Homo sapiens: one gene and its partners. The protein of the gene in region 6 purifies or fractionates together with the protein of the main gene of each other region. This does not show direct contact. Each region holds a gene or a part of one and is shown on either strand. Other genes may lie near its edges.

Region 1 (3,500 bases), on a different chromosome or scaffold from region 6:
GGCAGGAGGATCACTTGAGCCCAAACGTTCAAGACCAGCCTGGCCAACATGGTGAAACCCCCATCTCTATTAAAATACAAAAAAGTTTGCCAGGCATGCTGGTGCAGGCCTGCAGTCCCAGCTACTCAGGAGGCTGAGGCACGTGAATTGCTTCAACCCGGGAGGCGGAGTTTGTAGTGAGCCGCGACTGCTCCACTGCACTTCAGCCTGGGTGACAAAGCAAGACCCTGTCTCAAAAATAAAATAAAATAAAGGTACCTACCCTCTCCTGACCTATGAATCAGAAGCTCTGGAAGTAAGGACTTGGTGCAAGTGCAGGTTTTAAAATTTCCTCATGCGGGCCAGGCGCAGTGGCTCACATCTATAATCCCAGGACTTTGGGAGGCTGAGGTGGGAGGATCACTTGAGCTCACGAGTTTGAGACCAGCCTGGCCAACATGGTGAAACCCCATCTCTACTAAAAATACAAAAATTAGCTGGGCATGGTGATGTGTGCCTGTAATCCCAGCTACTTGGGAGGCTGAGGCGGGAGAATCGCTTGAACCCAGGAGGCAGAGGTTGCAGTGAGCCGAGATCACACCATTGCACTCCAACCTGGGTGACACAGCAAGACTCCATAAAAAGATAAAAAATAAAAAATAAAATTTTCTCATGCGATTCTATGCTTAGCCAATGTTGAAAGCCAGGAATATAGTTAACAACACAGCTGACTAAATGTCTCATTTCGTGTTATCACATATCCATGAGACAAATGTTAATATAAGCCACAGAACATATATGCTCCTTTGAAAAATTACTGGTCACAATTTAAGTCGGTGGCACCAGCACAATTCAAAATGAAGAAGACTGTGCACCAGGAGTCGGAGGCCTGGCACTGACCTCACTATGGCTACTCACTGTGCCACACCAGGCAAGCCAGACAAGTCAGCTTGCTGAGTGTTTGCTTCATTTATAAGAATGAGAAAATAATATTTGTTCTGCTTTCCTCATAAGATGATTGTGTATAGAAATGAAAGTATAAGTTATGAGCCATACTAAACTACAAGACACAAAATTTAGTCAGAATTAGTTGATTCCTAGGAGTTATTGCAAACGATAGAGACAGATCCAAAATGCTGATTTTCAGAATTTAAACCAAGATCCCCCCTTTATTCAACTAACTAACCAACTAAAAACCACCTGTCTTTTAGTTAGATAGGAAAATGGGAAGGCAGTTCTGCCTCTGTTAATGAAAACAGAGGCTTTTCTTTTCTACTTTCTGCCTTCAACTCTCTGCAACATTTCTTTCCAAGCTCGGTTCTTAACTCATCAAGACATCAAGATAAAAACAAAAGTCAAGTAACTCAGTGTCTTTTTTTTTTTTTTTTTTTTTTTTGGAGACAGAGTCTTGCTCTGTTGCCCAGGTTGGAGTGCAATGGTGTGATCTCGGCTGACTGCAACCTCCGCCTCCCGGGTTCAAGCGATTCTCCTGCCTCAGCCTCGTAAGTAGCTGGGACTACAGGTGCATGCCACCACACCCGACTAATTTTTGTATTTTCAGTAGAGACGGGGTTTCACCATGTTGGCCGGGCTGGTCTTGAACTCCTGACCTCAGATGATCCACTTGCCTTGGCCTCCCAAAGTGTTGAGACTGCATGCGTGAGCCACTGCGCCCGACCAAGTAACTCAATTTCTAGGAAACTAGTCCAATTTTGCCTAAGAAAAAAAAAAAAAAAAAAAAAAATATATATATATATATATATATATATATATATACGATGAAACACAAACCTCAGCCACAGTGCTGCGAATGCGATCCACCACCTGTTCAAAGTCCACCAAGCTGAAGAGTGGCTGCTGCTTGAGACGGTGCAGCTCTGCAGCAAAAGTGTCTTCCTGGTTTTTCAAAATGGATCCTGCAAAATAGGAAGACACCGTCAAAGGAGGACGGAGAATACCCAGGACAGTTAGGGTTTTCTGGGGAGGGCTAATCTCAGTGGGGCAGCAACTTCACCTGCTTCTCAGACAAACGTCATGATTCTGCTACAATCTCAGGATAGGAATATTATCGACCACTCGCTCTGACCAGGCATGCTGTGGGGCCACATAGTATTAAGGAAGAAGAGATTTTGAGGGTGTGGTACATTGGACAAGGAGATTTCTACCTTTTCTAGTCAGGTTCACATTTTGATTCTCAAACATCTGGACAGATTCTCCAACAAATAGGATTTTTTCAGCAACCCTCACTGGAATGTAGGATGGCAAAATCTCCACTCGTAGGGAAAACTGCTTCAGAGATGGTGCCAGCATGTTCTCTTCCTCAATCAGGCGCTAGTCAAGGAAAGAGTACACATCGAGATGCAGTGTGAAGCAAGAAAAGGAAAACAAGAAAATACCTAGTAACTCTCCCAACCCATGATTTAAAATAAAGACGCAGGGACTTCAAATCTGGTGTTGCACAGTTCTCAAACCACCCATTTTGGAGAGATGTATTTCATCTTCAGGCAGCAGAGTGGCATGGTGGAAATAAGAGTGGCTTAAATACTGGGATTTGGGCCCTCACTCTGCCTTTACTACTGAGTAAAAACTTGCACAGTCGACCAGCTTCCTTACTTGTACGATGAAAGAGGTGGTCTTTTTTGTTTTCCAGGTCTTCTCTCTATGTCTTCTCTGCTGGTGCTCCTCAGGGCACTGTCCCAGACTGTCTTTTCCTCTCAGCCTACACTTCCTATACAATCACATCGTCTTCTGTGACTGATCAGTGTAACAGATAGTTTTAATTTTTAGGTCACAGACCTCTCTGCAATCATAAAAGCTATGGATCTTCCAGACAAATGTACAGACATATAACATTTCATGAACCTCCTGAAGCCACCCAAGGGCCCCAGATTAAAAACCTCCAAGCCCCATGCTGATGATTCCATATGTAGATTTAAAGTAAGCTGGAGTGCTCTCATGAGCCCCAGGCTCAGCCCACTGAACATTTCCCACAAGTTCCTCAAACTCAACATGCCCCCCATTAGACCCATCTTCTTCCCCGCATACCAGCAGTATACACCCCTATCGTCACTACTTGCCCAGCTGCTGAAGGCAGAAACCTGGGTATCATCAATGATTCTTCCCTCTTGACTCATTTCCAAGCACTCACTAAGCCTACTGATTCCACCCTCTAAACATCTCTCACACCTCTTTGCTCTTTTTTCATATTCAATGTTAGTATCTTTGGTTTAGGGGACTATTATTTTCACCTAAGTCTCCCCAACACTCTCTTAACTGATCGACCTGCCTCTAATCTTGATTTTTAAAAAATGATTCCCCACACAGCATCCAGAGTGATTTATCATGAAGTCTGACTGTGGTACCCACTTGCTTAAAATTCAATAGCCCCCAACTCTTTTCAGGTTCAAGTACAAACTCATTTCCACTGTTTACATGCACCTTTGTGATCTTGCCTCTGCTTAACTCAAGTTTCATCAAGTACCAACTTACACAGTTTCAAGTACCACCTCTCCCTCACACCA
Region 2 (3,500 bases), about 69 Mb from region 6:
GAAATGTCTTTTCTTGTGCTCCAGTTACTATATCTAGAATCTAAAGCTTGACAGTAGCAATTCACGTATTGTACTGTGATTGCATGACTATTTCCCCTTTAGACTGTAAGCTTAAGAGGAAGGTATTCCTTTTTATTTTTGTGTACCTAGTGCCAAGTAAAGTCTCTCAGCACAGAGTATACATTTCATAAATGGGTGTTAAACAAATAAAACAGACTAAATTACACAACGTATCCAAGGATACAAAGCTACTAAATGACAGAACCAGGATTCAAATCCAAGTCTCTCCATTGCCAAAGCCTACAATTACTGTCTTAATAAAGCTAAAAATTAGATGTTTATCTTCTCTTTATCTTGCTTGTGGGAATTCTTTGATCATAAACACATAAGAAATTATATATATATATACACACACATATATATATATACACACAAGTTCCTGTTTTAAAGATAGCTTATAATCATATGAATTTTCTTATAAGAGCTTCCAATTTTAATATCCACATTCTATAAAAGCTTGCAAGGTAGTTAGCATGTAATAATAGTGGTGATCTCTCCTAAATACCAGAACTATAAAGGAGCCATGGTTTTCATCTGATAGTCTCCCTGAATTCAACACTCACTGCCTAGAAATTGATGTTATTTTGAGTTGTCACAGGAACTGTGTATAAAAACTAAGGTAGAATCTCTTAGGAAAAAATAACTCACTTTAACTTTAGCTTTTATTTCTTCACTGTTCCCTTCTTCCTCATTGCGGGGTTCCATGCCAGAATCCTCCTGGATGTCTTTGTTTAGTACAGAGTACTCTTCTAGTAGAGTGTCAAACAAAACTATTCGCTTGTTCTTGAAGAAGCCATAAAAATAAGCATTGCTGTGGGAAGAGCGTTTAGATCCTAAGGAAAAGACAGTTCAAAGCATGGAATATAATTAAAAAGTTTGGGGTCCTTTGGAGAGACTCCTAGAAATTGAATTACTGGAAAGGACATTAACATTTTCAAATCATTTAATATGTGAAGAAAAATCATATCAACATAATTCACCACCAGCAGTGGAGAGTGTCTGTTTTTTGCCAATAAATGTGCTCATCACAGCTTTATAGCAGTAAGTAAATAAGTAAAGCCTAAACATCCAACAGTTACAAATGATTCAATTATAGTAAAACTATGAAATGGAATTTTAAGCTGCCAGAAAAAAATTATACTTCCAAAGAATTTTAACAAGAAAAAGCTCACCAATATATTGTGAAGGATACAAAACTTCACGTATATCAGGTTCCATTATCGTCAAGAAAAAATGTGCATGTATTAGGTTGGTGCAAAAGTAATTGCGGTTTTTGCATTGTTGAAATTTGCTGTTTGATATTGGAATACATTCTTAAATAAATATGGTTATGTTATACATCATTTTAATGCACATTTCTCACTTTATGTTTTTTGCTAATGACATTACTTGCTGTTTATTTTATATTTATTTTAGATAAGGGAAATTATATTAGACAAAAAGCAAATTCAACTGGGTGCAGTGGCTCATGCCTGTAATCCCAGCACTTTGGGAGGCTGAGGCAGGCGGATCACTTGAAGTCAGGAGTTCGTGACCAGCCTGGCCAACATGGTGAAACCCTGTCTCTACCAAAAATACAAAAAATTAGCCGGGCATGGTGGCGCACACCTGTCATCCCAGCTACACGTGGGGCTGAGGCATGAGAACTGCTTGAACCCAGGAGACGGAGGTTGCAGTGAGCAGAGATGTCGCCACTGCACTCCAGCCTAGGCAACAGACGGAGACTCTGTCTCACAAAGAAAGAAAAAAAAAAAAGCAAATTCAAGCAATTTTCTTCTTTGAGTTCAAAATGGGTCGTAAAGCAGCAGAGACAACTCGCAACATCAACAACGCATTTGGCCCAGGAACTGCTAACGAACGTACAGCGCAGTGGTGGTTCAAGAAGTTTGCAAAGGAGATGAGAGCCTTGAAGATGAGGAGCGTAGTGGCAGGCCATCGGAAGTTGACAATGACCAATGGAGAGCAATCATCGGAGCTGATCCCCTTACAACTACACAAGAAGTTGCCGAAGAACTCAATGTCGACCATTCTACGGTCGTTTGGCATTTGAAGCAAACTGGAAAGGTGAAAAAGCCTGATAAGTGGGTGCTTCATGAGCTAAGCGAAAATAAAAATTAAAAAAAATCATTGTTTTGAAGTGTCGTCTTCTCTTATTTTACACAACAAACCATTTCTCTATCAGACTGTGACGTGAGACGAAACATGGATTTTATAGAACAACGGGCGATGACCAGCTCAGTGGGTGGACACAGAAGAAGCTCCAAAGCACTTCCCAAAGCCAAACTTGCACCAAAAAAAGGTCATGGTCACTGTTTGGTGGTCTGCTGCCAGTCTGATCCACTATAGCTTTCTGAATCCTGGCAAAACCATTACATCTGAGAAGTATGCACAGCAAATCGATGAGATGCACAGAAAATTGCAACGCCTGCAACCAGCACTGGGCAACAGAAAGGGCCCAATTCTTCTCCAAGACAACACCCAACCGAACATCGCAAAATCAATCCTTCAAAAGTTGAACAAATTGGGCTATGAAGTTTTGCCTGATCTGCCACATTCACCTGACCTCTTGCCAACTGACTACCACTTATTCAAGCATCTCAACAACTTTTTAAAGAGAAAACGTTTTCACAACTAGCTGGATGCAGAAAATGCTTTCCAAGAGTTTGCCAAATCCCGAAGCACAGAGTTTTACCCTACAGAAATAAGCAAACGTATTTCTTGTTGGCAAAAATGTGTTGATTGTAATGGTTCTTCTTTTGATTAATAAAGATGTGTTTGAGCCTAGTTATAAGGATTCAAAATTCATGGTCTGAAACTGCAATTACTTTTGCACCAACCTAACAAATATTAACAGAAAAGCATAAGCCCATGCCTATTAGGAAACATACCAAAATACTGAAATGTTTATCACTAAATTCTAAAATTATAGATTTTTGTTTCCTTTCTTTTCCCAAAGACTTTTAAAATCAGCATACCTACTTCTATAATTAAAGCAATTTTTATAAAGACTGGAAGAAGACATACCTTTTTTTCTTTTGAGACAGGGTCTCTCTGTCGTCTAGGCTGCAATGCAATGGCATAATCATGGCTCACTGCAGCCTTGACCTCCTGAGCTCAATCAATCCTCCTGACTCATCCTCCTGAGTAGCTAGGACTACAGACACATACCACCATGCCCGGCTAATTTTTTGTAGAGACAGGGTCTTGCTATGTTGCCCAGGCTGGTCTCTAACTCCTGGGCTCAAGCAATTCTCCTGCCTTGGCATCCCAAAGTGCTGGGATTACAGGTGTGAATCACCACAGCTGGCCCATACCTAAATTTTTAATAGCAGCTAACAGTACCTGAACTATGGTTGATTTTTATTTTCTTCTTTATGCACTTCTTTGATTTCTAAATGTCCTACAATGTGCAGTGAGTTGAGTATAGTGATTAAGAGCAC
Region 3 (3,500 bases), about 100 Mb from region 6:
TTTCTGTTGCCTAGAATGTTCTAGGCATCGCTTATTCCTTCACCTCCTTCAAATATTTGTTCAAATGTCACCTCGTCTGATCATTTTGTTTAAAACTGAAACCTCTCCTATTCCACTTTCCTGCTTTTCTCCAGAAAACTATCATTACTTAATATGCTATTTACTTATTTATTTGGTTAGCCTTTCTCCACCAGAAGGTACACTCCACACAAGGGAGAAATTTTTTTAATCTTTTTTGCCCAATGCTATATCCTCATTCCCTAGAACAGTGCACGGTATATAGTAGGCACTCAAAAAAAAATTGCTAATGAAGGCCAGGCGTGGTGGCTCACGCCTATAATCCCAGCACTTTGGGAGGCCAAGGCAGGCGGATCACGAGGTCAGGAGATCAAGGCCATCCTGGCTAATACGGTGAAACCCCGTCTCTACTAAAAAAAATTCAAAAAATTAGCTGGGCATAGTGACGGACGCCTGTAGTCCCAGCTACTAGGGAGCCTGAGGCAGGAGAATGGCGTGAACCTGGGAGGTGGAGCTTGCAGTGAGCCGAGATTGCACCACTACACTCCAGCCTGGGCAAGAGAGAGACTCTGTCGCAAAAAAAAAAAAAAAAAAAAATTGCTGAATGAATGAATGCAAAGTAAGCACACTTCTCAAGTATATGGGACCACAGATAACTTGTTTCTAGGAGTGTTTATTTATCAAACAGGTTTTTGGCATCTATCCATTAGGTAGACACTGGCAGGCACTGGTATTATAATGATGAACGAGACAAAATGGTCTCCTGGAGCTCAGAAGCTTATAGGTCTACAGGTGGACAGAACAACTCCTAGGAAAGGGAGCTACTAAGATATTCTTACACATCTTTCTGTTTGAATTAAAATTATACACCAACACAAAAGTTTCCAGTGAGTACCTCAATCTTTTCCTCTTTGAAATTAAGTTTTTAAAATTAAGATTTTTAGCCAAAATATGCCACACATCTTTGTCAGCAAGTTATACTTTAATGACACATGAATTTTCAAAAGTAAATTTGGCTAAAAGTTACATTGCCTTGTCTCTATAAAAAAAATTAAATAATTGGCCGGGCATGGTGGCACACATCTCTAGTCCCAGCTACTCAGGAAGCCGAAATGAGAGGATTACTTGAGCCCAGTAGGTTGAGGCTGTAGTGAGCCATGATTGTGCCACTGCACTCCAGTTGGGCGACAGAGTGAGACCCTGTCTCAAAAAAGAAAAAAAAAAAAAAAAAGTTGCATTGTACCCAGTGATTCCAAACTTGGCCTGATCTCTGCTCCATAATGATCTTCTTGAACTTCTTGCAAACAAAGTACCTTGGAAGAAAAAAATAGCTTGAATTAGAACACAGAGATGCAATCATGAATTTCCTGGTGCTTTTATCTTAAAATATCTAAAAGCAGGCTTCTAAAATTCCACACCTGATAAGAATTGAAATAAAAGACTTACCTGTTTTTCTTGTTATAGATCTACCAAATTAATGTTTCCGAATTTTGATCAATCTCAAAACTCTGGCCCTCAATCACATGGAGCTCCCTTAGTACTCAAAATTATTATTTCCAAAAGGAAATATTCTTAGCTTACATGTCAGGATATTTTTCCGGGTTTTACATGTTCATTGGTACTATCTTTCAGGTCTTAAGAGGCAGATTTCTTTGAATGCTATCAGGTAGGTGACATTTTTGCATGAATTACTGAAATTTCAAATCAAAGTTAATATTTACTGAATACTTAATATGTTGCCAGTTTCTGTCTCAAAACTGACCCATACTTAAAAACTTTTTGGACCCTCTTTGAAAAGTTAGATGATTATTCATACCAGCAACCACTAACAAATGCCTCTCTGAAAGTTATACCTTATTAAGACTTATTCCATCATTATTCTTAAACATATTCCTTTCTTACCCCACAAACAAAATGGATAAAACCATTTAGTTCATAAATGCACAAATGAAACATTTAACCCAACTTTTTCTTTCTTTCTTTTTTTTTTTTTTTGAGGCAGAGTTTTGCTCTTGTTGCCCAGGCTGGATTGCAATGGTGCAATCTCAGCTCACTGCAACATCGACCTCCCAGGTTCAAGTGATTCTCCTGCCTCAGCCTCCTGAGTAGCTGGGATTACAGGCATGAGCCACCACGCCCGGCTAATTTTGTATGTTTTAGTAGAGACGGGGTTTCTCCATGTTGGTCAGGCTGGTCTCAAACTACCGACCTCAGGTGATCCACCTGCCTCAGCCTCCCAAAGTGCTGGGATTACAAGCATGAGCCAGTGTGCCCGGCCCCAACTTTTTCTTATGTGAAGAATTTCAATAATATTTTGCACTTACGTCTGCATCAAAATGTTTAATTTCTTTCAGAATATTGGGAAACCTAAAACTCCAGTGTAATACTGGCCGCCGGCAATGTCTATAAAGGTGAGAGTTATCTTCCAGTAAATCTTGTGAAAGTATATTATAGGACATCACTGAAAAGTCAAACTTGTTCTCACTGTCTTCACATTTGGGATCAACATTTTTGTCTCCTAGGATCTTCGTTTTTTCTTTATCATGGCTACATATATATTCCCAATTCCGCTTTATCACACCTGTTAAAATATATTGCACAAATATAAGGAATTAATCAAAAGCAGACCATACAGTTTCCCACATATATGTATTTTTCAGCCTCTTAAAAATTCCCATAAGCAATGAATAGAATGTTTTTCCCTAGGAAGTGGCAATATAGCACTGAATAATTAGAACTGTTATCAAATTGGTTACAAATGCGGTAACACAATATACTGACCAACAGGTTTAAAACAGGTTTAAAAGAATCTTGCAAGTCATTCTGGAGGCTGAGAGTATGTGTTAACAAAGCTAAGACTATACAGAGGTTGTGGTTTCTCACTTCTCTACAGTTAAGAAGTGGCTCTGCCACAGATGTGATTGGCAGTTTTATAACTATAACAACAAATTTGTATGTCAAAGTTGGCTTTTCAATAAGATGATTTTACACTGTATTTTATTCCCTATTAGTGGGATAAGATCGTCAAATGATTAACCAAGTTCCAGAAGCAACCCTTAGTTCAGAATTCTAGTTTATACATGAAAGAAGTGTATATAATGGCAATATATGGAAGAAGTTTTAGTGTTTAAAACACTGAAGTGGAACATGCAAACAAAATAACAAAAGAAATCTTTTAAATGTACAACAAAGGAAAAGTTAAATATGACATAGCTACAGAATGCTAGTAAATGATGGCTAACCAACAAACCTAGCATGCAACAACCAGGCGTGTGTTCATATTCTGCAAACACATCATGCATTCTGCAAAAGTGATGAAAAGAATAAAAAAACACAAGACTTTGCAATCATAGGCAGTCCCTGACTTAGAAATAACCGTGTGTGTGATGTGTGTGTGTGTATTCACCTTTGATCTTGTCTCCTACATCCTATCATTAAAGAGCATGCTCTTACTGCCATGGAAACCATGAAGAGAAACACGG
Region 4 (3,500 bases), on a different chromosome or scaffold from region 6:
GGTGACAGAGCAAGACCTGGTCTCAAAAACAAGGTAAAAAAAAACAAAGTGGAGTATGGACAAATACACTTATTCAACAAATAAATATTGAGCACCTACTGTGTGCACTGGTGACAGCATGAATGTGACAGACACCGTCTACACCTTGTAAAGCTAAAATCTAGTTGGCGAGACAGACAGAAAACAGAACATGTCACAGGTGTCTTTATGATCAGAAATGGCAGTTTTGGTCGGGCGCGGTGGCCCACGCCTGTAATCCCAGCACTTTGGGAGGCCGAGGCGGGCAGATCACCTGAGGCCAGGACTTCAAGACCAGCCTGGCCAACATGGTGAAACCCCGTCTCTACTAAAAATACAAAAATTAGCCGGGTGTGCTGGTGTGTACCCATAGTCCCAGCTACTCAGGAGGCTGAGGCAGGAGAATTGCTTGAACCCTGGAGGTGGAGGTTGCAGTGAGCCGAGATCGCACCACTGCACTCCAGCCTGGGTGACAGAGTGAGACTCCGTCTCAAAAAAAAAAAAAAAGAAAGAAACTCATTTGTTCGGCTGGGCACAGTGGCTCATGCCTATAATCCCAGCACTTTGGGAGGCCGAGGCGGGTGGATCACGAGGTCAAGAGATCGAGACCATCCTGGCCAACATGGTGAAACCCCATCTCTACTAAAAATACAAAAAATTAGCCAGGCGTGGTGGCGGGCGCCTGTAGTCCCAGCTACTGGGAGGCTGAGGCAGGAGAATGGCGTGAACCCAGGAGGCAGAGCTTGCAGTGAGCTGAGATCGCGCCACTGCACTCCAGCCTGGGCAACAGAGCAAGACTCTGTCTCAAAAAAAAAAAGAAAAAAAGAAACTAATTTGTTCTTCTTCCCACAGCCTCCGAAAGCCGCCAGGACTCTGCTGTGAACCTGACGGGCACCAACGGCAGCAACAGCATCAGCATGTCGGTGGAGATCAACGGCATCATGTACACAGGTAGGACCCCTGAGGCCACGCCCTGCCTGGACCTCGCCTCTCCCGCCGCCGTGAACTCAGGACCCTGAGTTGCGCCTGGTCCCACCTGCTTGAACCTAGGTGTGCGGGCGAGCAGGGCACGGCCAGGGGCTTTGCAGGACAAACAGTCAAGACTGATGGAGAGGATACCATCGTTCACCCGGTACCACGCTCAGCCCAGAGGGGGTCGTCCACAGATACATATTCAGTGTGACGTTGGATGGTTCACATTCCTAGTTTTTTGTTTTAATGAGACGGAGTCTTGCACAGACATGCACCAGCACACCTGGTTAATTTTTAAATTTTTTGTTGCTCTTTAAATTTTAAATTGCTTTGTTGCTCAGACCGGTCTTGAACTCTGGGCTCACGCAATCTTCCTGCCTCGGCGTCCCAAAGTGCTGGGATTACAGGCGTGAGCCACCGCACCCAGCCAATCCCAGCATTTTCGGAGGCTGAGGAGCAAAGAATGTATAAGCCCAGGGGTTAGAGACTTTCAGGCTGCAGCAAGCTGTGATGACGCCACTGCACTCCAGCCTGGGCCACAGACCGAGACCCTGTCTCTTGAAAAAAAATTTAATGAATGTATTTTTTATTTTTTTTAATTTGTAATTTGTAATTTTTGTGGGTACATAGTAGGTATATATATTTATGGGTTTTATGAGATGTTTTATACTGGCATCCAATGCCTAATAATCACATCAGGGTAAATGAGGTATCCAAAAAATTGAATCTAGGCTGGGTGCAGTGGCTCATGGCTATAGTTCCAGCACTTCGGGAGGTTAACACGGGAGGATCACTTGAGCCCAGGAGTTCAAGACCAGTCTGGGCAACATAGTGAGACCCCATCTCTCCTAAAAATATAAAAATCAGCAGGGCGTGGTGGCAGGCGCCCATAGTCCCAGCTACTCGGGAGGCTGAGTAGGGAGGATCACTTGAGCCCAGGAGGTGGAGGTTGCAGTGAGTCAAGATCACACCATTGCACTCCAGCCTGGGTGAAAGAGTGAGATCCCGTCCTTCTCTCTCTCTATATATCTATATATAGATATATCGATAGATATAGCTGTAGCTATACATAGATATATATAGATTAGATATAGATTTATATGTATCTATAAATACATATATACTTTTATATCTATATCTACATAGATATATATATATATAGTTGTTTTTTTTTTCTTTTGAGAGGGAGTCTTCCCTCTGTCACCCAGGCTGGAGTGCAGTGGCACGATCTTGACTCACTGCAACCTGTGCCTCCTGGGTTCGAGCGATTCTCCTGCCTCAGCCTCCCCAAGTAGCTGGGACTACAGGCGTGTGTCACCACACCCAGCTAATTTTTTTTTGTATTTTTAGTAGAGATGAGGTTTCACCATGTTGGCCAGGCTGGTCTTGGACTCTTGACCTCAGGTGATCCGCCTGCCTCGGCCTCCCAAAGTGCTGGGATTACAGGCATGAACCACCGCGCCCACCCTATATATACATATTTTTTTAAATAAAATGAATTAAAAAGTTGCCGGGCACAGTAGGTCACACCTGTAATCCCAGCAGTTTGGGAGGCTGATGTGGGTGGGTCACAAGGTCAGGAGTTCAAGACCAGCCTGATCAACATGGTGAAACCCCATCTTCCCTAAAAATACAAGAATTAGCGAGGTGTGCTGGTGTGTGCCTATAATCCCAGCTGCTTAGGAGGCTGAGGCAGGAGAATTGCTTGAACCCGGGAGGCGAAGGTTGCAGTGAGCCGAGATCGCGCCACCGCACTCCAGCCTGTGCAATGGAGCAAGACTTCGTCTCAGAGGAAGAAAAAAAAAAGAATTAAAAAATTTAATTAAAAAAGTGGAGTCAGTGCCAGGGGCAGTGGCCCACGCCTGTAATCCCAACACTTTGGGAGGCTAAGGAGAGAGGTTTGCTTGAGGCCAGCCTGGGCAACACAGAAGACCCCATCTCTACAAAAGAACATAAGTAAATGAATAGTTTTTCTTTTTTTTTTTTTTTTTTTTTTTTTTTGAGACAGAGTCTCACTCTGTTGCCCAGGCTGGAGTGCAATGGCATGATCTCAGCTCCTGCAACCTCCGCCTCCTGAGTAGCTGGGATTACAGGTGCATGCCACCAGGCCCGGCTAATTTTTGTATTTTTAGATGATACGGGGTTTCACCATGTTGGTCAGGCTGGTCTCGAACTCCTGACTTCGTGATCTGCTGGTCTTGGCCTCCCAAAGTGCTGGGATTACAGGCATTAGCCACCACACCCGGCGGTAAATGAATAGTTTTTCTTAAAGTGGAGTCAGGCCGATGGTTCATAGTGGCCACCAGGTGGCGCTGTCGACACAGAGCAGCCTTGTTGCAGGCCCCCGCCCGGCTGTGGTCAGAGGCTGAGCTGAAGGTCAGTGGTGTCCTCACAGGTCCACAAATGGATTTTTGAGGGGTCCGTGCCCTCCGGAAATCAGATGTAAAACGTGTACATTCATATTGAATCTTACAGGGGAGAAGGCCAACTGTGTGCTAGGGGTCTCGCAA
Region 5 (3,500 bases), on a different chromosome or scaffold from region 6:
TGGGGAAGGAAGGTGAGCCCGCCCCTCAGTGTGCCCCAGCCCCCACACCCTCAGCCCCTCCCTGCCTTCGGCCCCCAGATACTCCATCCCCACATGGCCACCAGAGGGGTCTCCCTGAAACCCAAATGCCACCTTAGCGGCCCAAGATGGGACTGTCCGGCCTTGGCCAGGCGTACACCTGCTCCCAGCCGACTTTTACCATGCCCCCCACTCGCTAGTAGGGTTCTCTACATGGTGACTCCGCGTGCCTGCCCTGCCCTCTTCTGCTGAACTGGCGTATTCAGGCACACGTCTGTCCCAAATTCCTGGTGATTCCATGTCATGCAATGCCTTGGGTGCGTGCCACAGCCCTCATCTGCTGCAGGTTCCTCCCTACAGACATCCCGGCCACAGGATGCGAGCCTGATTTCCCAGCAGCTCCAGAAAGAGCCCCAGGGTCTTAGCCATCCCCAAGCCCACCAAGCCCTCCTCCCTCCTTGCCTCCCTCAGCCCACAGCCTCCCTGTGCCCCCTCCTGCCCTTGCCGCTTACCTGTCACGACCAGGTGGCCAGTCACCTCCCGTCAGCAGGGGCTGTGTCCTGTTCTGTGTTGGCCGCGCTGTGCTGTGACTGTTCACACCTCCGTGCGCTCCCACTTGGGGGAGCTGCTGGGTGGGTCTCGGTGGTTCACCTCCGCACGTTCGTTCCTTTCCCCTTCAGCCACTGGTGGGGGAGACACTCACCGTGTGTGGTTGGTCTGGAAGGCAGTGGACACCTCAGTGGCCTGGTCCCTCCACATGGAGGGCGTGACACAGCCCAGACAGGCCTGGGCACACAGGAAGTGCTGCCCCCAGAGAGCAGTTCCCTGGGATGGGTCTGGGGTACAGATGGGCATCAGGAGCCTCGCCCTGCCAGGCCCTAACTTGCGGTGTGTCTATCTCTGTGGGCACAGTGAGCCTCGTGGTGCAGTGGGTGGACATAACGCGTCTGGAGAAGAACGCCACCCTGCTCTTCCCCGAGAGCATCCGTGTGGACACCCGCGACCAGGAGCTCTTCTTCTCCATGTTCCTCAACATCGGCGAGACCTTCAAGCTCATGGAGCAGTTGGCCAACCTGGCCATGCGGCAGCTGCTGGACAGCGAGGGCTTCCTGGAGGACAAGGCCCTGCCTAGGCCCATCCGGCCACACAGGAACATCTCAGCCCTGAAGCGGTGCGTTGCCCTCCAGGGCTGGGGTGGGCTCATGTGAGCCAGGTTCGCTGACCTTGGCTGGGACCTGCCTGGTCCAAGTGTGTAGACCTGGAGAAGGTGTCCACATTCACCCCTCATGGGCTCCCCACTTGGGAAGGAAGCCAGGTAAACAGATCATTGCAGTCCCGTGTGGAGAGGCAGCAGGAGATAGCAGTGATGTCCTGAGGATACCACTAATGGGGAGGAAGCTCTTCACACTTTATTCCTCTTGGCCCTATGATGGGAAGGGGCTCTTACCATCCCTAGGTATCAGACAAGGAAGCTGAGGCACAGAGAGGTTAAGTAACTTGCCTGAAGTCCCTCGGTTAGTGAGCAGTGGAGCCAGGATGTAGCCACCTCAGCCAGGGTGTTCTGACACCCCCAGAAAGGCTTTGGTAAATCTGGGCTCAAGTGCACGGCCTCCGTCCCACCGTGATTGACAGCTCTCCTGTATACCCTGAGACTCCTTGGCCAGAGGCCTCTCACAGCCATGGGACCCCCAGGGGTCCTGAGTTTGACGTGGAAGCAGACCTCTGGGTCTGAAGCCAGCCAAGGAGATGGGCCATGTGTGGGTCTGAGTTCCCTGCTGCCCTGTCCAGGGGACCGATAGGCAGGAACACATCATAGCAGCCAGCCCTCCCGGGCTACTTAACGTTTGGGTTCCTAGGTTGTAGCTTATGGGAAACTCCAGAGGCTGGACAAGATCTCTGAGGTTCCCTGGGTCCCACAGCCAGCCTGACCACAGCCAGATTCACACCCTTGTGTTGAGCGACCTCATTCCAGCCAGGCCATTTCCTGCATTGCACCCACAGACTGTGGTCCAGGCCCAAACTCTGGGGTCCACCTCCAGGACCAGAAAATTGTGCAAGCATGTTGTCCTTGGGATGCAAGTGACAGGTTGGCTTGTTGGACCTTTTGGAAAGAACACGAGCAGAGATGGAACATGACTGCTCCTGGCACTGCCGGTGAGAATGCAGTCAGGCCCTGGTCAGGCCACTGCGGCCCAGGGCAGGCAGGAGGCTCCCTTTGGGGCTGGGAGAGTTTATGTGGACAGAGCCACCAAAGGGGTGAGGGCCTGGGCCAGGCCACTGTCACAGCCATCAGATACACAGGTGTGCATTTCTGTTAGCAGCCGCATGCTTTAGTTTAAGCTCCACACCTCCCTGTGGGGAGCTCCTCACCTAGGTTTCAAGGTGAAACCTGGGGTTAGGCCTGCCCAGGGTGGAAGAGCTGCCCGGGGCCCTCCATCTGAGTGGGATCCAGGGCAGGTGCTCTGGGCTCTGCTTGCCCATCAGTACCGAGGGATGGGTTGCACATTGCCCAGGCCAGCATCTAGGTGTGTCCTTTTCAAAGCAGTCTCAGGACACATTGCTTGCTGGCCACTTCTCCGCTGGTTATGTGACTGTCTCACCTTCTGCCTGCTCACTCAGCATGCATCTTTTATTGAACTCTGAGGTCCCTGAGCATGACTTGCTCAAGGGACCACCCCAGGGATCCTGAATCTGATGTGGAAACAGGCCTGGGGAGGCCCCAAGGCTTCCTTGAGAGTGTGCTGGTCCTGACCTTGTCCCCTTTCCTCCTGTCCTCCTACCTTGTTTCCCCAGAGACCTGGACGCCCGAGCCAAGAATGAGTGCTACCGAGCCACGTTCCGGCTGCCCAGGGATGAGCGGCTAGACGGCCACACAAGCTGCACCCTGTGGACGCCGTTCAACAAGCTGCACATCCCTGGCCAGATGTTCATCTCCAACAACTACATCTGCTTCGCCAGCAAGGAGGAGGACGCTTGCCACCTCATCATACCCCTGAGGGAGGTCAGCATCCCCTAGTTGAGAGGCCAAGGCCTTTCCAGCCCCGAGGTGTCAGTGGGCTCAGGGACCAGCCTGTCCTGCTCTGCCCTGTCTCACTGGGGGGTACCTGGGAGGATGCCCTAGCCCAGGCAGTCACATGTCACTCAGTGATGGGACAGGTGGAGGGTGTAGGACAAGTGAGCCCCTCCACAGGCACCTGCCCTGTTGGGGAGGCAGGTAACATGGTGGGGGCACACTGCTTGCCCTCTCAGGTCACTTGCCTAGTGGAGACAGGGTCTCCCACGCGTGAGTTTCCATCAGGCCTGCCTTCTGGGCCCTGCAGGGCAAAGTGCTGCTCCGTGGCTGCGCTTAGAGGACCGTGTTCCTGCACCGGTCCCATATGTCACTCTCAGAGGCCACCTCACCAGTCCTCTCTGGACATACCACCTTGGCGTGGCTCGGCTCCAGCAGGCCATCAGAGGTCGGCTCTCCCCTGTGGGGCGGC
Region 6 (3,500 bases):
CCCTGTTCCTTGTAGAGCCTGCAGGGGGTGCATTCAAGGGAGGGGTTTAGAGCCGGCAGAAGGGCAGGCTGCAGCTCCGCATCCCCTGTGCCCCTCTGCCCTCCTCACTGTAGGTCCGAGTCACTGTCCGTCTTCAGGAAATCTTGCTTGGCCCGAAGCAGGATGTCTGGCTCCAGCCTAGAGGCAAGAGGGGTGAGAAGTCAGGCAGATCCCGAGGGACGGCCCTTGCTCCCAGGTCCCAGCACCGCACTAGGTGCTGTGCACATGTTGTCACATGTGATCCTCAAAGGCAGAGCTGCAGAACCCTGTGCTGTTCTCACTCACTTTAGAGATGAGAAAGCAGACCCATAAGTTAAGCAACATGACCCAGCCACACCGGCGGCTAGAAGACAGAACAGAACCCAGCAGCCCGACTCCAAAGCCCACTCTATGCTCCCTGTGCAGACCCCCCAAGGCAGGGTGCGAGGGAAAGAGGCAGAAAAGGGGCTCTGAAAGGGTCTGGAAGGGTATGGAGGGAGACTAAGCAGCTGCCTGCCGGGCTCACTTGACATCCTGGCTGATCTGCCGCTCCAGCCGCTGCCGCCGCTCCTCCAGCTGTTCAATGGGGCTCTCCTCGGGGAACTCATACGGGGCACTACGGAGCTCGCTCTCAGCCAGTGAGCGGGTGAACAGCTCCTGGGGGGAGGGAAGGAAGGTCAGCATGGCTGGCCCTCCGCCCTCGGGCACTCTCCTACAGAGTCTGGGGATGGGGTGAGGGCAGCAGGACCAGGGGTACCTGGGAGAGGCTGAGGATCAGGAGACAGCCAAGCGTGAGGTGAGGGGACAGCTTGAGGTGAGGGGTGTGGGGAGCAGAGGCAGGGCATGGAGACACGGGGTGAGGGTGCGGGTGGTGCCAGGTGATACCTCGGCGATCTCCTTGCATTTGCCATCCATAGACGTGCGCAGGTCGAGCGGGAAGTGCTTGAGGCAGGGGGCGGGGCCCGGCAGGGATCGGGCAGACTGCAGCGGAGGGGCCCCCAGACCACCCCGAGCCTCTGCAGAGACAGTGATGCCAGGGTCAAAGGGTGGAGGGGCAGCCCCTGAAAGCCCTGGGCCCCTGCCCTGCCTAGGCCAGCTCCCGAGAGAGCCCAGGGTCGGGAAAGAGGGCAGTCCCTCCTCAGTAGCTGAGGAGTAGGCCTGTGTGTGTGGCTCCCAAAGGGCTCACCCTCACCTCTAACGCAGGGACCCCTCACCCATTCCAGGCTTGGGGTGGGGATTCTGAGTCTGCCCCTAGAACAAGTAGATTCATTACCTCCACAAATGAGACTAGAGCCTGATCCCTCAGGCCATGAGAATCTCCACGTGACTACCTCCCAGAGGCAGGTGCACGTGTGTACGTGTGCACACACATGCACGTACGCACACAGACACCCTCAGAGACACACACCAGGTGCTTGGTAAGGACCAGGCGGCCACACCAGGGACCCCCAGCCTGCAGCTCCCAGGGCAGGCAACCCAGGATCAGACCCGCCCCTGGACTAGCAGATTCTCCACTCAAAGGGGCAGGGCCCTGTGCCTGACATCCTAGACCTGTGCAGCACAAGAGAAGCCGCAGCTGCTGCTCAGCTCTGACCTAGGGACGAGCCCTCAAGGGAAGAGGAGAGGAAGTGGAGGGCCTGGTTGGCAAGGGAACCCTACCTCCTCCCTGGAGGCCCGCCCTGTCCCCCAGGGCCCCAGGGCTGCCAAAATGTGGCCTGGCCTTAGCCTGCCCCTCCAAAAGGAGCTGCCACAAACAGTCTATGCCACTCAGGCCCCAGGATCTGGACCGGGGGCACCACAGAGGGCCCTGGGGAAGGGAGTGTCAGAAGCCAGGGGTCTTTCTTCATCAAGACTAGACTTTCCATCTGTACCACGAGGAGGCTGGCACCAGAGGGCCGTGAAGCTGCTGGTCTATGGGGGCTGCCAAGGCTTCCAGCCTACCCCGAAGGACCCTCCCTGGGCTCAGCAGCCCCAGCTCCTCAGTGAGAAGCTTTCCACACCCAAACTGCCTCTCTCAGCCGGCTGTAAGGAGTGCTCCCCTCCAGCACCCTCCACCCTGGCTTAGGGAAGGATTACAGGATCTGCCTAGGTAGCCGGCCTTAAAGTCTCTGCGCCCATTTCCCAATACTCCAGGACTGGTCCCAAAGCTGGACAAAGGGAAGAGGGAGGGGCCTGCCCCAGATCCAGGACCCCGTCCCCTGCGCACCCCGGCCCCTGCCTGAACCCTACCTGCAGAGTGCAGGCAGCTCCGGCCAGCAGCCCTGTGCCCCTTGCCCGCCTGTTTGCCAGTGAAGCTGCAGCCGGTCCCTCAGGGGCTGGCACAGGCTGTACCAAGTGCAGCTGCAAGCAGGGGAGACCCTGAGATGGCCGTGAGCACGGAGCTAGGGGAGTTCAAGGGAGCCCAGAAACCAAGGGAAGGAGCATCAGAGTTGGGAGATAAGACGAACTCCAGAACTGAAGAGGGCCTCCACCTCTACAGTGCCAGGGAAGACCCAGCCAGATGTGAGGCTCCTAAGGGGGAGTAGCAGGGTAGGCTGACTTGGGCAGGGCAGGCCGACAGGGAGGAGCCAAGCCTCCTTAAAATCCACTGCCCTAGGGGACAGTGAGTGGGCAGGGCCTGGCTGGCCAAAGAGTAAGAGGGGAGAAAAAGGAGGGGAACAGCGCTCTTCATCACACCCACAGCCCCAGGTTGGCCTCTTCTGGCAGTGGCCTTGTTGCTCACCACTGTCCTCTGGGCCCTGATTATGGCATCCCTCAGGAGAGACAGGGCCTTTGCTGGGGTAGGAGCTGGCTGGCAGCTGGGGAAATGGCCCAGTCTAGGTAGGGGCCAGTCACTGAGGCTTCCCCGCTGCCCAGCTGCTCAGGGGGCTGGTTCGCAGGCCCCTAGACCTGCAACCCCTGATCCAAGCCTATCATCAGGGACAGGACAAACTGTCCAGAATAAGTTTGGGAGAAAGGGGGCTAGAATTTGGAGAACATGGATCTGATTCTGTTCCTGCTTCCGGGCATGTCTCTACCTACCTCTGGGAGGCTTTGGGTCCTCATCTACAAGTGGGGCGATAAGTGGTCCCTTCCCTGCCTAGCCACAACTGCCATAAGGCTCACAGAGATAATGGCTCTGCAAGTGTTCTGCAAAACACCAGGCTCTGTGTTGAGGCAAGGCCTGCAATTATGAACTCCTGGGACCCTCAAAATACATTCTACCTGTAGCCCCGCCCACTGAGGACAGTGGGAGGTTCCCTGGGCCCAGTGCAGGGCAAAGGCAATAGGCCAGTAAAGGGCAGTGAAGTGAACTTGGCAGGAGTGGAGATGGGGTGACTCTATCTCTTACTTGGAAAAGGACAAAGTGGGAAGAGGAAGAAAAGAGGGGAAGCTGTCTCACCCCCAGAGTGTAAGATCTTTTCTTGCCCGAGAACCCTGATTTTACACACCTCCTCCCTACATATGGCCCCAGACCACTTCTGACTCCTTCTAGGGGAGGC
Region 7 (3,500 bases), on a different chromosome or scaffold from region 6:
GGGCAACAAGAGCAAAACTCTCTGTCAAAAAAAAAAAAAAATACAAGAATTAGCTGGGTGTGTGGTGAGTGCCTACAATCCCAGCTTCTTGGGAGGCTGAGGCAGGAGCATCTCTTGAACCCAGGAGGCAGAGGTTGCAGTGAGCCGAGATCCCGCCACCACACTCCAGCCTGTGTGACGGAGTGAGACTCCATCTCAAATCGGGCGCGGTGGCTCACGCCTGTAATCCCAGCACTTTGGAGGCTGAGGCAGGCAGATCACGAGGTCAGGAGATTGAGACCATCCTGGCTAACATGGTGCAACCCCGTCTCTACTAAAAATACAAAAAATCAGCCGGGCGTGGTGGCATGTGCCTGTAATCCTAGCTACTCAGGAGGCTGAGGCAGGAGAATCGCTTGAACCCGGGAGGCAGAGGTTGCAATGGGCCGAGATCGTGCCACTGCACTCCAGCCTGGGCAACAGGGCGAGACTGTCTCAAAAAACACCCAAAATAAATAAATAAAATAAAATAAAATAAAGTTTACGGGGGCCGGGCGCAGTTGCTCCTCACACCTGTAATCCCAGCACTTTGGGAGGACGAGGCAGGCGGATCATCTGAGATCAGGAGTTTGAGACCAGCCTGGCCAACATGGCGAAACCCCATCTTTACTAAAAACACAAAAACAAAAAGTAGTCGGGTGTGGTGGTGGGCACCTGTAATCCCAGCTACTCGGGAGGCTGAGGCAGGAGAATCGCTTGAACCCGGGAGGCAGAGGTGGCAGTGAGCCGAGATTGTGCCATTGCACTCCAGCCTGGGCAACAAGAACAAAACTCTGTCTCAAAAAAAAAAAAAAAAAAAAAAGAACGTTGTAAAGATTAAATGAATTACATGTAAACGCCGCTGGGCGCAGCGGCTTGTGCCTGTAATCCCAGCACTTTAGGAGGCCAAGACAGGCAGATCACCTGATTTTGGGAGTTCAAGACCAGCCTGACCAACATGGAGAAACTCCGTCTCTACTAAAAATACAAAACTAGCTGGGTGTGGTGGCACATGCCTGTAATCCCAGCTACTCGGGAGGCTGAGGCAGGAGAACTGCCTGAAACTGGAAGGCGGAGGCTGCGGTGAGCTGAGATCGCGCCACTGCACTCCAGCCCGGGCAACAAGAGCAAAACTCCATCTCATTAAAAAAAAAAAAGTACATGGCATTTAGCTCATAGTAATACTCAATAAAAGATAGCTGTTATCACTAGTGGAAAGTATACAAATTCTAGGGGCTTTTGTTTTTTAAGACAGGGTCTCACTTTGTCACCCGGGCTGGAGTGCAGTGGCATCATCATGGTTCACTGTAGCCACAACCTCCCAGGCTCAAACAGTCCTCCCAAGTTAGTTAGCCTCCTAAGAGGTTGGGACTACAGGTTGGCTAATTTTTTTCTTTTTCTTTTTGTAAAGATGGGGTCTCATTTTGTTGCCCAGGCTGGTCTCAAACTCCTGAGCTCAAGCGTTCCTCCTACCTCAGCCTCTCAAAGTGTTGGGATTACAGATGTGCACCAACGCACCCGGTCATGAATTCTGGTTTTAACCATTTATAGTCCTTTATCCTCTGAGGCAGTAACTCAAATTTAGTCTTGCGTTGACAAAGCCATCTGTCCTGTAGGAAGTTCAATAATAAGGTCATTTCTCAAATGTACATTTCACTATCGCAAGCTAAAAACAATGATATGGTTAGTAAGACACAAAAACCAAAATGCTTCTTCATTTGTCTTTCAATTCACCAAAGGCCTTTCATGCTCTTCTGTCACCTCTGGATTTGACCTTAAAATGGTAAACAGAAGACTGAAAGATCACCAGAACAGTTAGCCATCAAAGGTAGTAACTGGGTGCTCCCATGCTTCATGATCAACAGGAGCTCTTCTCTTACTCACCTGGTGCTGTGCTGCATTATAACCAGTGTTCCCTGATTAATCAAGCCTGATAGTCCAATGAGGAATTACAAAGATTTACAGTATGGGAAAAGCCTACACCTATTAGTGGCATCAGGCAAGTCAATCTCTTTGAGCCTTATCTATACCATATTATTATGGATCCTATAATGGAAGAAGATGACTACGAGGATAAGACTTAGTTGACGTAACATATATTAAACCTACAAGACTGAGTCCAGCGCAATCTACTTTTCGCCTTTCCATATTATTAGTGATGGTTACACATACCAGTAAGAACAGGAGATAAAACTGAGGATAGAAGGAAAAAAATCCATGTTGAAAAACAAGGAAATTTAAAAATTCTAGAAAAGATACAAGTATGGGCTGGGCACGGTGGCTCACACCTGTAATCCCAGCACTTTGGAAGGCTGAGGCGGTTGGATCACGAAGTCAGAATATTGAGACCATCCTGGCTAACACAGTGAAACCCCCGTCTCTACTAAAAAAATACAAAAAATTAGCCAGGTGCGGTGGCAGGCACCTGTAGTCCCAGCTACTCGGGAGGCTGAGGTAGGAGAATGGCGTGAACCCGGGAGGCGGAGCTTGCAGTGAGCGGAGATCGCGTCACTGCACTCCAGCCTGGGCAAGAGAGCGAGACTCCGTCTCAAAAATAATAAAAAAAAAAAAGATACAAGTATGATCTTATTCTCAACCTTCGTAAGACTTGCCATTTACAAGAGGCTAACAACAACTAAAACCAGGACATAAAAGAATAGGACAATGTGATTGGGTTGTGAACTCTACACAAAGTTGGCACTAAGTAAACATTTGCTACAAAACAATTATCAATAAAGTCTATTTCTAATTTAAAACAACTCTACTTTGTAGTGGAAAAATACAAGGTAAAGTCTTACATACCTTCAGCATTTATGCTAAGTTCTGTTGAATTTCCTTCTGTGGTCGCATATGGATTGTTTCCAACCATTGGCACAAGACAATCGGTATAGAAGTAACCAATCTTAGACATATTCAGTGTAGAAATAATCAGATCCATTGCAAGCTGGCCAACATTTCCAACAGATACTGCTGGCTGAAATTATAAAAGATATGTTCAGTAAGTCACCAAAATTAGCAGCACTTTATTTTATTTTTTGAAACAGAGTCTGCCTCTGTCTCCCAGGCTGGAGTACAGTGGCGTGATCTTGGCTCACTGCAGCCTCTGCCTCCTGGCTTGAAGCAATTCTCCTGCCTCAGCCTCCTGAGTAGCTGAGATTATAGGCGCGCACCACCACACCCAGCTAATTTTTGTATTTTTAGTAGAGACGGAGTTTCACCATGTTGGCCAGGCTGGTCTCAAACTCCTGACCTCAGGTGATCCACCGACCTCAGGTGATCCACCCGCCTCAGCCTCCCAAAGTGCTGGGATTACAGGCGTGAGCCAACACGCCTGGCCCACAGCACTTCAAAAAGTTTAGACAGAATACAATAGTTATATTAGTACTGAAAGCATCATAACATCATAGCTAGATATTGATTTTCATTAACTACAACTGCTGGGGCCTCCTCCACCTTTGAGACTATTTAACAAATACTTATTG

The links.
Region 1: the proteins of AMPD2 (region 6) and TUBGCP4 purify together in Homo sapiens (affinity purification with mass spectrometry, with the first as the bait; one large-scale study listed by BioGRID). This does not show direct contact.
Region 2: the proteins of AMPD2 (region 6) and ZMPSTE24 purify together in Homo sapiens (affinity purification with mass spectrometry; one large-scale study listed by BioGRID and IntAct). This does not show direct contact.
Region 3: the proteins of AMPD2 (region 6) and ANGEL2 purify together in Homo sapiens (affinity purification with mass spectrometry; one large-scale study listed by BioGRID and IntAct). This does not show direct contact.
Region 4: the proteins of AMPD2 (region 6) and ARID3A fractionate together in Homo sapiens (co-fractionation; one large-scale study listed by BioGRID). This does not show direct contact.
Region 5: the proteins of AMPD2 (region 6) and TBC1D9B fractionate together in Homo sapiens (co-fractionation; one large-scale study listed by BioGRID). This does not show direct contact.
Region 7: the proteins of AMPD2 (region 6) and PSMG2 purify together in Homo sapiens (affinity purification with mass spectrometry; one large-scale study listed by BioGRID and IntAct). This does not show direct contact.

What each region holds. Positions count from the first base shown.
Region 1 is NC_000015.10:43,384,601-43,388,100, reverse strand, and holds part of TUBGCP4 (gamma-tubulin complex component 4), read right to left. Parts: intron 2,311-3,500; coding exon 2,145-2,310; intron 1,896-2,144; coding exon 1,771-1,895; intron 1-1,770. UniProt on the Homo sapiens protein: Component of the gamma-tubulin ring complex (gTuRC) which mediates microtubule nucleation.
Region 2 is NC_000001.11:40,278,736-40,282,235, reverse strand, and holds part of ZMPSTE24 (CAAX prenyl protease 1 homolog), read right to left. Parts: intron 2,117-3,500; coding exon of another isoform or gene 1,938-2,116; exon of another isoform or gene 986-1,937; intron 894-985; coding exon 709-893; intron 1-708. UniProt on the Homo sapiens protein: Transmembrane metalloprotease whose catalytic activity is critical for processing lamin A/LMNA on the inner nuclear membrane and clearing clogged translocons on the endoplasmic reticulum.
Region 3 is NC_000001.11:213,005,868-213,009,367, forward strand, and holds part of ANGEL2 (protein angel homolog 2), read right to left. Parts: intron 2,600-3,500; coding exon 2,343-2,599; intron 1,332-2,342; coding exon 1,262-1,331; intron 1-1,261.
Region 4 is NC_000019.10:967,535-971,034, forward strand, and holds part of ARID3A (AT-rich interactive domain-containing protein 3A), read left to right. Parts: intron 1-870; coding exon 871-969; intron 970-3,500. UniProt on the Homo sapiens protein: Transcription factor which may be involved in the control of cell cycle progression by the RB1/E2F1 pathway and in B-cell differentiation.
Region 5 is NC_000005.10:179,890,898-179,894,397, reverse strand, and holds part of TBC1D9B (TBC1 domain family member 9B), read left to right. Parts: coding exon 1-12; intron 13-930; coding exon 931-1,189; intron 1,190-2,811; coding exon 2,812-3,019; intron 3,020-3,500. UniProt on the Homo sapiens protein: May act as a GTPase-activating protein for Rab family protein(s).
Region 6 is NC_000001.11:109,622,837-109,626,336, reverse strand, and holds part of AMPD2 (AMP deaminase 2), read right to left. Parts: intron 2,309-3,500; exon of another isoform or gene 2,248-2,308; intron 1,035-2,247; coding exon 904-1,034; intron 676-903; coding exon 545-675; intron 178-544; coding exon 109-177; intron 19-108; coding exon 1-18. UniProt on the Homo sapiens protein: AMP deaminase plays a critical role in energy metabolism. Catalyzes the deamination of AMP to IMP and plays an important role in the purine nucleotide cycle.
Region 7 is NC_000018.10:12,706,042-12,709,541, reverse strand, and holds part of PSMG2 (proteasome assembly chaperone 2), read right to left. Parts: intron 2,993-3,500; coding exon 2,821-2,992; intron 1-2,820. UniProt on the Homo sapiens protein: Chaperone protein which promotes assembly of the 20S proteasome as part of a heterodimer with PSMG1.